2 separate regions of the Homo sapiens genome follow, and region 2 is linked to region 1. The links come from fine-mapping of genetic effects on gene expression. Tissue or cell type: whole blood. Region 1 holds a variant in brackets; the other region holds the start of a gene. All regions are shown on one strand. Distances are from middle to middle.

The links. PIP is the estimated chance that this variant, and not a neighbour inherited with it, causes the effect.
Region 2: PPEF1 starts here. The variant in region 1 is fine-mapped to the expression of PPEF1 in whole blood (TOPMed, PIP 0.99).

Annotation. Positions count from the first base shown.
Region 1 is chrX:18,683,990-18,689,323 of GRCh38, forward strand. It overlaps PPEF1-AS1 (PPEF1 antisense RNA 1), which reads right to left. Exons shown (of 3, transcript NR_046642.1): 3 at 4,654-4,916. It also overlaps a transcript of PPEF1 not described here. Among named protein-coding and RNA genes, the nearest start is that of PPEF1-AS1, 6.0 kb to the right of the region's middle. The variant C/T (reference allele first, on the strand shown) is at 2,426.
Region 2 is chrX:18,705,429-18,710,604 of GRCh38, forward strand. It overlaps PPEF1 (protein phosphatase with EF-hand domain 1), which reads left to right and starts at 2,217. Exons shown (of 16, transcript NM_001377996.1): 1 at 2,217-2,398. The coding sequence starts at 2,353.

The DNA.
Region 1 (5,334 bases):
AAAAATACAGATCCTACTGATTGAACCTTTGCACATAGCTCACCCGTAGCTCTCTCCTGTACCATTTTGACAATGTCTTTAATTTGTCCCCCAGCTACCAAGGGCTTGCCCTGTGTTCCAGTCCCTTGATGGAAGTTGTTCATTATCACATGCCTGCAATATGTCTGGGAACACAGTGTTGGGTAGTGCGGGAGCTTTTTTAAAAAAAGTATATGACATGGCCTCATCTCAAGAAGTCTGAAGAACATGAGTTAACCCAAAGGACTCATTTGTTCCAGTATGTTAATGGAAGATAGTGGCTTGATGTGGTTTTCCTAATGTAGGATGTTACTAGATCTGAATTTGGGCCCGGTCTCCTTTCTCTTAAAGAAGAAACTTGACAAAAGAGAAGGCTGATGAGGGATAGGCAGGGTGATAAGCAAAAACCTGTCTAATAGGAAAGAAGGCCTCACATGGTATACCTCTCCAGACCAGCTATCTATAACCTTCACAATCACCCACGATCACTTTCAGTGAGATTACATTTCCTAGAGATGGCCACTCGAGAGAGAAACAGATGAGCTTAGAATGTTTTGTCTCCCCCTCTCTTACTTAACCTATCTTGGGATGTGTCTAGTATCTTTTTCTCTCTCTCTTTTTTTTTTTTTTTTAATTTGAGGCAGAGTCTCACTCTGTCGCCCAGGCTGGAGTGCAGTGGCACAATCTTGGCTCACTGCAACCTCCACCTCCCGGGTTCAAGCGATTCTCCTGCCTCAGCTTCCCAAGTAGCTGGGATTCCAGGTATCCGCCACCACGCCTTGCTGATTTTTGTATTATTAGTAGGGATGGATTTTCACCATGCTGCCCAGGCTGATCTTGAACTCCTGACATCAGGTGATCTGCCTGCCTTGGCCTCCCAAAGTGCTGGGATTACAGGCCTGAGCCACCACACCCGGCAGAGATGTGCCTAGTTTCTAAAGTCACTCCCCTGTGACTAGGTAACTGAACACAGAACAATTTGACTACTACTGCCCACTCCTCTAGAGTCCCATTTAAAAGGCAACACCTGATAGCAGCCAGTGCTAATTGGTGATGGAAATGGAATGGGTTACTCCCTCGACTCCCACAACACTTACTGCCTGATTTGTTTCCACATGGATTCAACTGGGCACGCAATAAGACTTGCCTCTAAGCTTTCTGCACAGTCTGAGGGAAAGATTTCAAGTGTGGTGCAGGTGTTAAACTCCAGTCATATTGTGTATTTTTACTAATGATTTCAAGAATTGGGGATCTTTTGGATACAATTTGGGTAGAGTCCTAAGGCCATCTACAGTAATAAAAGCAAAACCAATTAGTAGGTTGTTTAATTCATTTAGAGGCTATCTGCATGCTAGCAGTTTTCCTCTGCTAAATCCTGTTAAGATGCAGTGGGTTCTGCCAGGCACGGTGGCTCACGCCTGTAATCCCAGCACTTTGGGAGGCCGAGGAGGGTGGATCACGAGGTCAGGAGATCGAGACCATCCTGGCTAACACGGTGAAACCCCATCTCTACTAAAAATACAAAAAATTAGCCGGCCGCGGTGGCGGGTGCCTGTAGTCCCAGCTACTTGAGGGGCTGAGGCAGGAGGATGGCGTGAACCCGGGAGGCGGGGCTTGCAGTGAGCCGAGATCTCGCCACTGCACTCCAGCCTGGGTGAAAGAGCGAGACTCCATCTCAAAAAAAAAAAAAAAAAAAGAAAAAAAAGCAGTGGGTTCTATTTTGTGCAGACGGAGTAGGCTGCCATGACAACTGTCTGTGAATATTATTTCAATATTAGTCATACATTTCTAGCGTCTGCTTCTGGGCTCAGCGTTCTTCTAAAGCCTGGATACAAATTTATTCTTAATGGACCTCTCCTGGACGTGTTTACAAAAAGAACAAAAACAAAACACTTTCAACTGGCTGACTTTTTTTTTCTTTCAGAAGAGAAATTTGAATGAATTCACACAACTGAAAATTGATTGTGAATCTTATTGTCATTTTTTCTTTTAAAAAGGTGATTGTGATGTGAACTTATATGGTGCTGGATTATAGATTTTACTGAATAGAAGCACTACACCAGGATTTGGAAAGTTCCCCTGTAGGCATGTAGTCCTTACAGTAAAATTATTATTTTTTTCTTCTAACAGTATCAGAAAGAATCTTGTAGTTGCCTGTGGCAGAAGATCCGACCCAAACTGAGCAAAACCAGTTTCAAACGAATCTGGTTTGAAACTTCCGAAGGTAAGATTTGATCCAGAGACTAAGGATGGAGGGCTCCGGCTCCATTTCCCTGCCTTTTGGTTGGCCCTTCCCCATGTATCAATTTCACCCCCTGGACTGGCTCTTCTCATGGTGAAACCTTGCTCAGAGCACCACACTAGGGGGAGATAAGTGAGTCTGTCCCAGCACTCTCTCCAGGTACCC[C/T]GAGATTCACTCATAATATCTTTCTTTAGCTATACGCCCACCCCAAACACTCCTTTTTGCCAGGAGAAGAGGATATGCTGTCTTAGGCCTGAATTATGTGCTTGTTCCTGAAAAGTTGCTGTTGCTTGGGGAGTGGGCTCGGATAATTGGCTTAAGTCAACCAGGGCCCGCGCTTAGAGTTGGGGGCTGCGTCAGTCCCATGCAAATCACTTGGCTAAAAAACAGGAAGCGGGGGTGATTTCGAAAAGGAAAATTGTGATTCTATTACAAGGAAGTTAGGGGACTATTTGCTAGCCACCTGGTTAGGGAACAGAATGCTGGCCTAATGATAATAATAATAGCTAACATTTATTGAATACTATGAGCCAGGCACCAAGCTGCTTTATAGTTGTATTGGTTAGAGAATGTGTTTGGCTGCCTGAAATAAGGTAAATAGAACACCAGGGGCTTAACACAGAGCGCTTGGTTTTCGTCCCACATGATACGAAGCCAGGAGATATACAGTGTCACATTGTCATCCAGGTCTCAAGCTCGTCCCTCCATCCTGCATCCATCCTGCATCATGGTTTCGCTATTCTCAGTGTGAGGCTTTCTTCCTAGTGTGCATGAGATGGCTGCTCCTCCTCCAGGCATTGTGTCCTGGTTCCAGGCAGAATAGGGGGAAGGACAAAAGAGAAGAGGCTTATGCCAGCTGAGTCTTTTCCTTTTTATCAGGAAAATAGCTTTTCTGGAAGCCTCAGCCCATAGATTTCTGCTTGTATCTCAAGGGCTAGAACTGTGTCACATGACTACCCATAGTTGCAAGGGAGCCTAGCAAATCAAGTTTTGTTGCCCGAACACTGCCACCTAGAACAAAACGGGGGTTTTATTAGTAAGGAACAGGGGGAGAATGGACAGTAATGATCAGTGGCTGCTACAATGTGTGTTAACCCATTCATTCGTTACGTCAACCCAGTGTGATTGGTGCTATCTGTAGCCTCGTTTTATAGTTGAAGCAATAGGCACAGAGAGGTTATGTAATTTGCCCAAGCTCACACAGAGCTGTTAAGTGGTTGAGCAAGAACTTGAACCCAAGCAAGCTGACTCTAGAATCTAATTCTATTATGTCCCTAGACACATCCTGACCCACTGGCCAGACCACATTTCTTCTCTAGGATGTATATCCACTTGGGAAATGCAGGCCTCTCCTGGAAATGGTAGCTAATACTTGTTTAGCACTTTATAGTTTACAAAGAGATTGCCACTTAAATTATTCTCTTTAAATATTCTTCTTTTTTTTTTTTTTTTTTTTTGAGACAGAGTCTCACTCTGTTGCCCAGGCTGGAGTGCAGTGGCACGATCTCAGCTCACTGCAACCTCCACCTCCCAGGTTCAAGTGATTCTCGTGCCTCAGCCTCCGGAGTAGCCGGGACTATAGGCGCACACCACCATGCCTGGCTAATTTTTGTATTTTTAGTAGAGACGGGGCTTTACCATGTTGTCCAGGCTGGTCTCGAACTTCAGACCTCAAGTGATCCACCTGCCTTGGCCTCCCAAAGAGCTGGGATTACAGGTGTGAGCTACAGCGCCCGGCCTATTCTCATTTTTAAAATGAGGAAACTGAGGTTTAGAGGAGTTATGTAAGTTGCCTAAGATCCCCAGGTTGAAAGTGGCAGAGCTGATATTTCCTCAAAATTATAAAAACTTACTCCAGTTTCCCTTTCTTAATCTTCCTGTTCTTCTCTGCACAGAGGAGTTCATTTCTAGTTTTTTTAAATGGCAATATTTCACTTTAGGCCCTATATTAACTTCATAACCTTCTCACGAAAACCAAACCAGAGAAATCTTGGCTCTCTCGCCTACTTGTTTTCACATAGGCCACCAGGAGGAATGTGCCACATCAGTGGGAACTGTGACAGAAGTAAGTAATGGAGGCCTGGAAAGGGAGGTGGTTTTTCTCTCACATCATATAAAATCCAGAGCTTCCGTCAGAAAATGAAAGTGTTAGTTACAAATAGCTCTTATTGACCTGTTAAAGAGTTATTAAACATGTAGACATTGCTTCTCATTAGTTACATCAGATTAATTTGTTACTTTTCTTTAAAACTATTTCATAAATTGAACTTGTCACTGAGTAAGAATTGACAGCCCACTTCACTGGGATAAATTAGAGAAGTTTCACTACATTACTGACACGTCAGTTTGCTTATGATTATTATTTCTCTCGTTCTTTCCAAGTCTTTGAAATCTTTAGCTTTTGGCATTGCTTTATTTACATATCACAACATTCTTTTGTTTTGGTCTTACTACTGAGTAAACCATAAAAATTAATTGTAGAATTAATACATTTTAGGGAGACATGAGAATTCAATCAAATACATTTAAGAAATACATTGGTTCAGTTCAGAAAGGCAGGACAACTCGAAGCAAGGGGGAGGAGGGGCGTGGCTTCCGGGTTATAGGTAGATTGAAAAATGTTCTAGTTGACAGTTGGTTGAGTTTATCCAAAGACCTGGGATCAGTAGAAAGGAGATGTCTGGGTTAAGGGACTGTGGAGACCAAAGTTCTTATTGTGCAGATAGATGAAGCCTTCAGGTAGCAGGCTTCAGAGAGGACAGATTGTAAATGTTTCTTATCCGTCCTAAGGTCTGTGTTTATATTAATACCGGAGAGGTATAATGAGGCATGTTGGACCTCTGCTTCTCGTCATGGCCTGAAGCAGTCTTTCAGGTTAAATTTTAAAGTGCCCTGGCCTAGGAAGAAGTCCATTCCAATGGTTGGGCGGGGATTAAAATTTTTCTTTTGGTTTACACTCCAAAAGCTATGAATGAGGCCAGGTGTGGTGGCTCACGCCTGTAATTCCAGTGCTTTGGGAGCCCAAGAATTTGAGACCAGCCTGGGCAAGATGGTGAAACGCCATCTCTGTAAAA
Region 2 (5,176 bases), 21 kb after region 1:
TAAAGCCAAGCACGGTGGCTGATGCCTGTCATCCCAGCACTTTGGGAGGCTGAGGTGGGCACGTTGCTTGAGGCCAGGAGTTTGAGACCAACTTGGGCAACATGGTGAGACCCCATGTCTACAAAAAAGTACAAAAATTAGCTGGGCATGGTGGCGCATGCCTGTAGTTCCAGCTGCTCAGGAGGCTGAGGTAGGAGAATCACTTGAGCCCGGGAGGTGGAGGCTGCAGTGAGTCATGGTTGCGCCACTGCACTCCAGCCTGGGTGACAGAGCGAGACCTTGTCTCAAAAAATAAATAAAAATTTGGAAGTAACCCAAAGTTTAGGAAGGCTAATTCATTCAATACATAAAATAATCAGGTTCACCTCTGGTCAGAAAATCTGTTTACTAAGCTTATTGTTATTTTCAAAACATGGCCATAGTTCAAATATTTTGCTTATTTTAGTTTTCCCTTTCTTCAGTCGAGTTGAAATTTTGAAGCTTTTGGTGTAGTACCAATGGAAAGATAGATATGTCAGTTGTTTGCTGACTTTGTGCCTGTCAAGAAATGCAAATAGGGCTGGGCAAGATGGCTCACACCTGTGATCCCAGCACTTTGGGAGGACAAGGTCGGAGGATCACTTGAGCCCAGGAGTTTGAGACCAGCCTCGGCAACATAGGGAGACCCTGTCTCTACAAAAAAATAAAATTAGCCGGGTGTCACGGCACATGCTTGGGAGGTTAAGGCTGCAGCGAGCCGTGATTGTGCCACTACACTCCATCCTGGGTGACAGAGTGAGACCCTGTCTGAAAAAAAAAAAAAAAAAAAAGGAATGCAAATATATTAGATCAGGTTGGTTTGGAGCATCACAAAATAAAGGAAACATCACCCTAAAAAGTGACGTGACAGTATACTATGGAAAGGAATTTTGTTGAAAACTCCCGTGAAGTGATTATGGGAGTCAGGGAGCTCATGAGAAGGACTATAGAACACAAAGTTAGACTCCAGAGGGGCCTCAGCAGTGCCCAGAGAGCTTGTTTAAAAGGGCACTCTTGGCCAGGCACGGTGGCTCACGCCTGTCATCCCAGCACTTTGGGAGGCCGAGGCAGGTGGATCACCTGAGGTCAGGAGTTCGAGACCATCCTGGCCAACACAGCAAAACCCCGTCTCTACTAAAAATACAAAAAATTAGCCAGGTGTGGTGGCGCATGCCTGTAGTCCCAGCTACTAGGGAGGCTGAGGCGGGAGGATCACCTGAGCCTGGGAGGTTGAGGCTGCAGTGAGCTGTGATCACACCACTGCACTCCAGCCTGGGTAATAGAGCGAGACTCCGTCTCAAAAAATAAAATAAATAAAAGGACACTCTCACAGATTACAATTCCTAAATTTGGGGGGAGGTTTCAAACCTCCTTTTTTTTTTTTTTTTTTTTTTTTTTTTGAGATGGAGTCTCGCTTTGTCGCCCAGGCTAGAGTACAGTGGTGCGATCTCAGCTCACTGCAACCTCCGCCTCCTGGGTTCAAGCGATTCTGCTGCCTCAGCCTCCTGAGTAGCTGGGATTACAGACATGTGCCACCATGCTTGGCTAATTTTTGTACTTTTAGTAGAGACGGGGTTTCACCATGTTGGCCAGGCTGGTCTCGAACTCCTGACCTCGTAATCCGCCCGCCTCGGCCTCCCAAAGTGCTGGGATTGCAGGCGTGAGCCACTGCGACCGGCTGCCTCCTTTTTTTTAAAACAAATGTTCCCAACTTATTCCGCGAAATACTGTCAAAGAACTCACTTTGAATTTCAGCATAGCTGTTAAATATGTTGTTTTTGTCTCATAGTCAACTTCCAATTTGTGTTTTTAAAAGCCTAGATAGGTTGAATTACTTTGAGCTGAAAACCAAAACAGTTAATTATGTCAGCTCCTCCACATCCCATTCCCCATATTTAAATTAGAAAATCGTACACTCTCATATTTCGATTTTTCTTTTCATTTTGAATGCTCTATTTTATACAGAGCTGGATGTGACCTAGACATGGAGAAACTCATTTATGTCTAGCAGAGAAGCAGCCTATAGCTGCTCTGTAGCTGCTGCTGTGTTTTGGAAAATAAGCCAGGATTAGATTATGTCTGATCACTTTCCACATCACATGATGAACAGCGATTCAGAAGAAGCGTAAAATGAATCCTGCTGAGCAGCCCCTCAGCTACCATGTGGTTAACTGGCGGTTTCCTTCCCTCCCTCCTGTGTATTCCTCATTAGAATCTATGACTGAAGAGGATCGGCTAAGAGTGGTTCCTCGCAGCTTAAAGGGAGGCACTTTTCACACTCTGTCTTAAAATCAGAAGTTGAATTCATGAACACATATGATTTAGATAGAAGTCATGGGATGCAGCAGTTCTTCAACGAAAACCAGGAGATCTGACACATGTGAGTACTGGGAATGTGCCTGTGGTTATGAATGAAAAGGGGAAAATGAGCTGCCCTCACCCTCTTCTCCTTTCTCATTTACTCCCACGATGCTCAAGCTGCCCTGTGTGATTTGCACAAGGCATCGTTAGAGTAGCATAGGAAACTACATTTAGGAAGATGTAGCTTTGAATTTATGAAGTACCATAAAGTATTGTCTTAGAGATATTTTGTGTTTGATTTAATTTCATTCGATAATGTACCAATATAAAATCTCAATTTAAAACTCAGTGGCAGGGAACAAGAAAGGCAGTGTAATTTATATGTGTTTCTTCAATACTTTTATAAATAGCTATATCCCTACTTTTGTGACATTTAGTAGCATCATTGAATTTTTATTGGATTTTATAACTCAATGATCACATTATTTCTATATCTATTCAACACAGAACTTCATGAGATTTGCATCACGTTTTAAAAATAATCTAGGAGAATTGGGAGAATGCTAGATCATCTGTTTCCAAAAAAAAGGTGTATTGTTTCTAAATAGATGGCATGCCTTTCTGTACCCCCATATAATTAGAAGCTTAAATATTCACTTTGTTTATTTTGTACTGAGGTTCTTTCTCATGGCTATTGGCATCTAGTTGAAACAAACTTGAGCATTTAAGGGATAGAGTTTCCAACAAGCAAATTAAAATAAAAACAAGTAAATAAGCTGGGACAATTAATATGAGTAATTTGCTCTTAAACTCCACTTCTTTGATGTCTAGGTTATAGGTAATTCCCCCAACTTCTATTCCACGTCTTGCCTTTGGAAGTTTATTCAGGCTTAAGGTGGAGGGTTTAGGATGCAGAGTGTGCTATACTAATTAGCGTGGGATGTTTTACTTTGGGAATCAAATGTTATTCTCCTACCCAGCTGACTTGTGCTGATGATGTAGGAAACTCATCTCTGAAAGTAGGAAGGGACATAGGAGGTGTACTGACTCTTTCAAATCTTTAAGCATGTCATGAAATAAATCTTTCAAAAGCTCCATCTGAACTCTACTGCTGTAGTAGACGTTTATTAGCAGAGAGTAAAGAGAAATTATCTTTTTATATCTAGGATTACTCACAGTTCTTTAAATTTAGCCAAATTTCCTAGGTTAAAAAAAAAAAAGCCAAGTCCAACTTGTAAAAACAAATCCTCTCTCTTTTTGAAATACTTTTCAACTTTTAAAACATTGCATGTAAGTGGAAATATTAGCTTAGATTTTTGGATTGCTTTTTCTTTCAAATACCTGTGATTTATTGAGGTGAAATTCACGTAACATAAAATTAGCCATTGTCAAGTGAACAACTCAGCAGCAGTTGGTATGTTCACAGTGTCGTGCAACCACAACCCCTATGTACTTCTGAGACATTTCCAACACTCCAAAGTAAAACCCCTTATCCATTAAGCACTTTCTCCTCTCAGCCCCTGGCAACCACAAATCTATATTCAGTCTCTATGGATTTATCTATTCTGGACATTTCATGTAAATGGAGTCATATATTATGTGACCTTTTGTGTCTGGCTTTGTCCATGTTGTAGCATGTATCAGTACTATATTCCTTTTTATTGTGGAATAATATTTCATTGTATGAATATGCCACATTGTATTTATCCATTCATCAATTGATAGACATTTGGATTGTTTCAGCTTTGTTTTTTGTTTTTTGTTTTTTTTGAGACAGTCTTGCTCTGTCACCCAGGCTGGAGTGCAGTGGGGCGATCTCGGCTCGCTGCAACCTCCGCCTCCCAGGTTCAAGCGATTCTCCTGCCTCAGCCTCTGGAGTAGCTGGGATTACAGGCACACACCACCACACCTAGCTAATTTTTGTATTTTTGGTAGAGACAGGGTTTCACCATGTTGGCCAGGCTGGTCTCGAACTCCTGACCTCAGGTGATCTGCCCGCCTCGGCCTCCCAAAGCGCTAGGATTACAGGCGTGAGCCACTGTGCCCGACCTGTTTCAGCTTTTTGACTGTTATGAACAATGCTGCTGTGAACATATGTTTTCCGTTCTCTTGGGTATATACCTAGAAGTGGAATTGCTGGGTCATACGGTAGCTTTATGTTTAACATTTTGAGAAATTTCCAAGCTGTTTTCCCAAGTGACTGCACCATTCTACATTCCTACCAGCAGTGTATAAAGGTTTCAATTTCTCCACATTTTCAGCGATAGTTGTTATTGTCTGTCCTTTTGATTTTAGTCATCCTAGTGGGTATGAAGTGGTATCACACCATGGTTTTCATTTGTATTTCAGTAGTGACTAATGACATTGAGCATCTTTTCATGTGTTTATTGGCTATTTGTATATCTGCTTTGGAGAAATGTCTATTCAGATCATTTACCCATTTTTAATTGAATTATTTATTTTTATATTGTTGTAAGATAAATTTATATATTCTAGATACAAGTTTCCTATCAAATATGTGACTTGCAAATATTTTCTCTCATTTGTTGAATTCTCTTCATCCTTTCTTAATGGTGTTCTTTGAAGCACAAAAGTTTTTACTTTTGATGAAGTTCACTTTATTTTTTCTTTGGTTGCTTGTGATTTTGGTGTCATATCTAAGAATCCATTCCCGAGTCCAAAAAGATTTTTGCTCACGTCTTACTTTAAGAGTTTTGTAACAACTCAACAAGAAAAAAAAGATAACTCCATTAAAAAGTGGGCAAAGGTCATGAACAGACATTTTTTCAAAAGAAGGCATACAAATGGCTAACAAACACACGAAAAAAATGCTCAACATCACTAATCATCAGGTAAA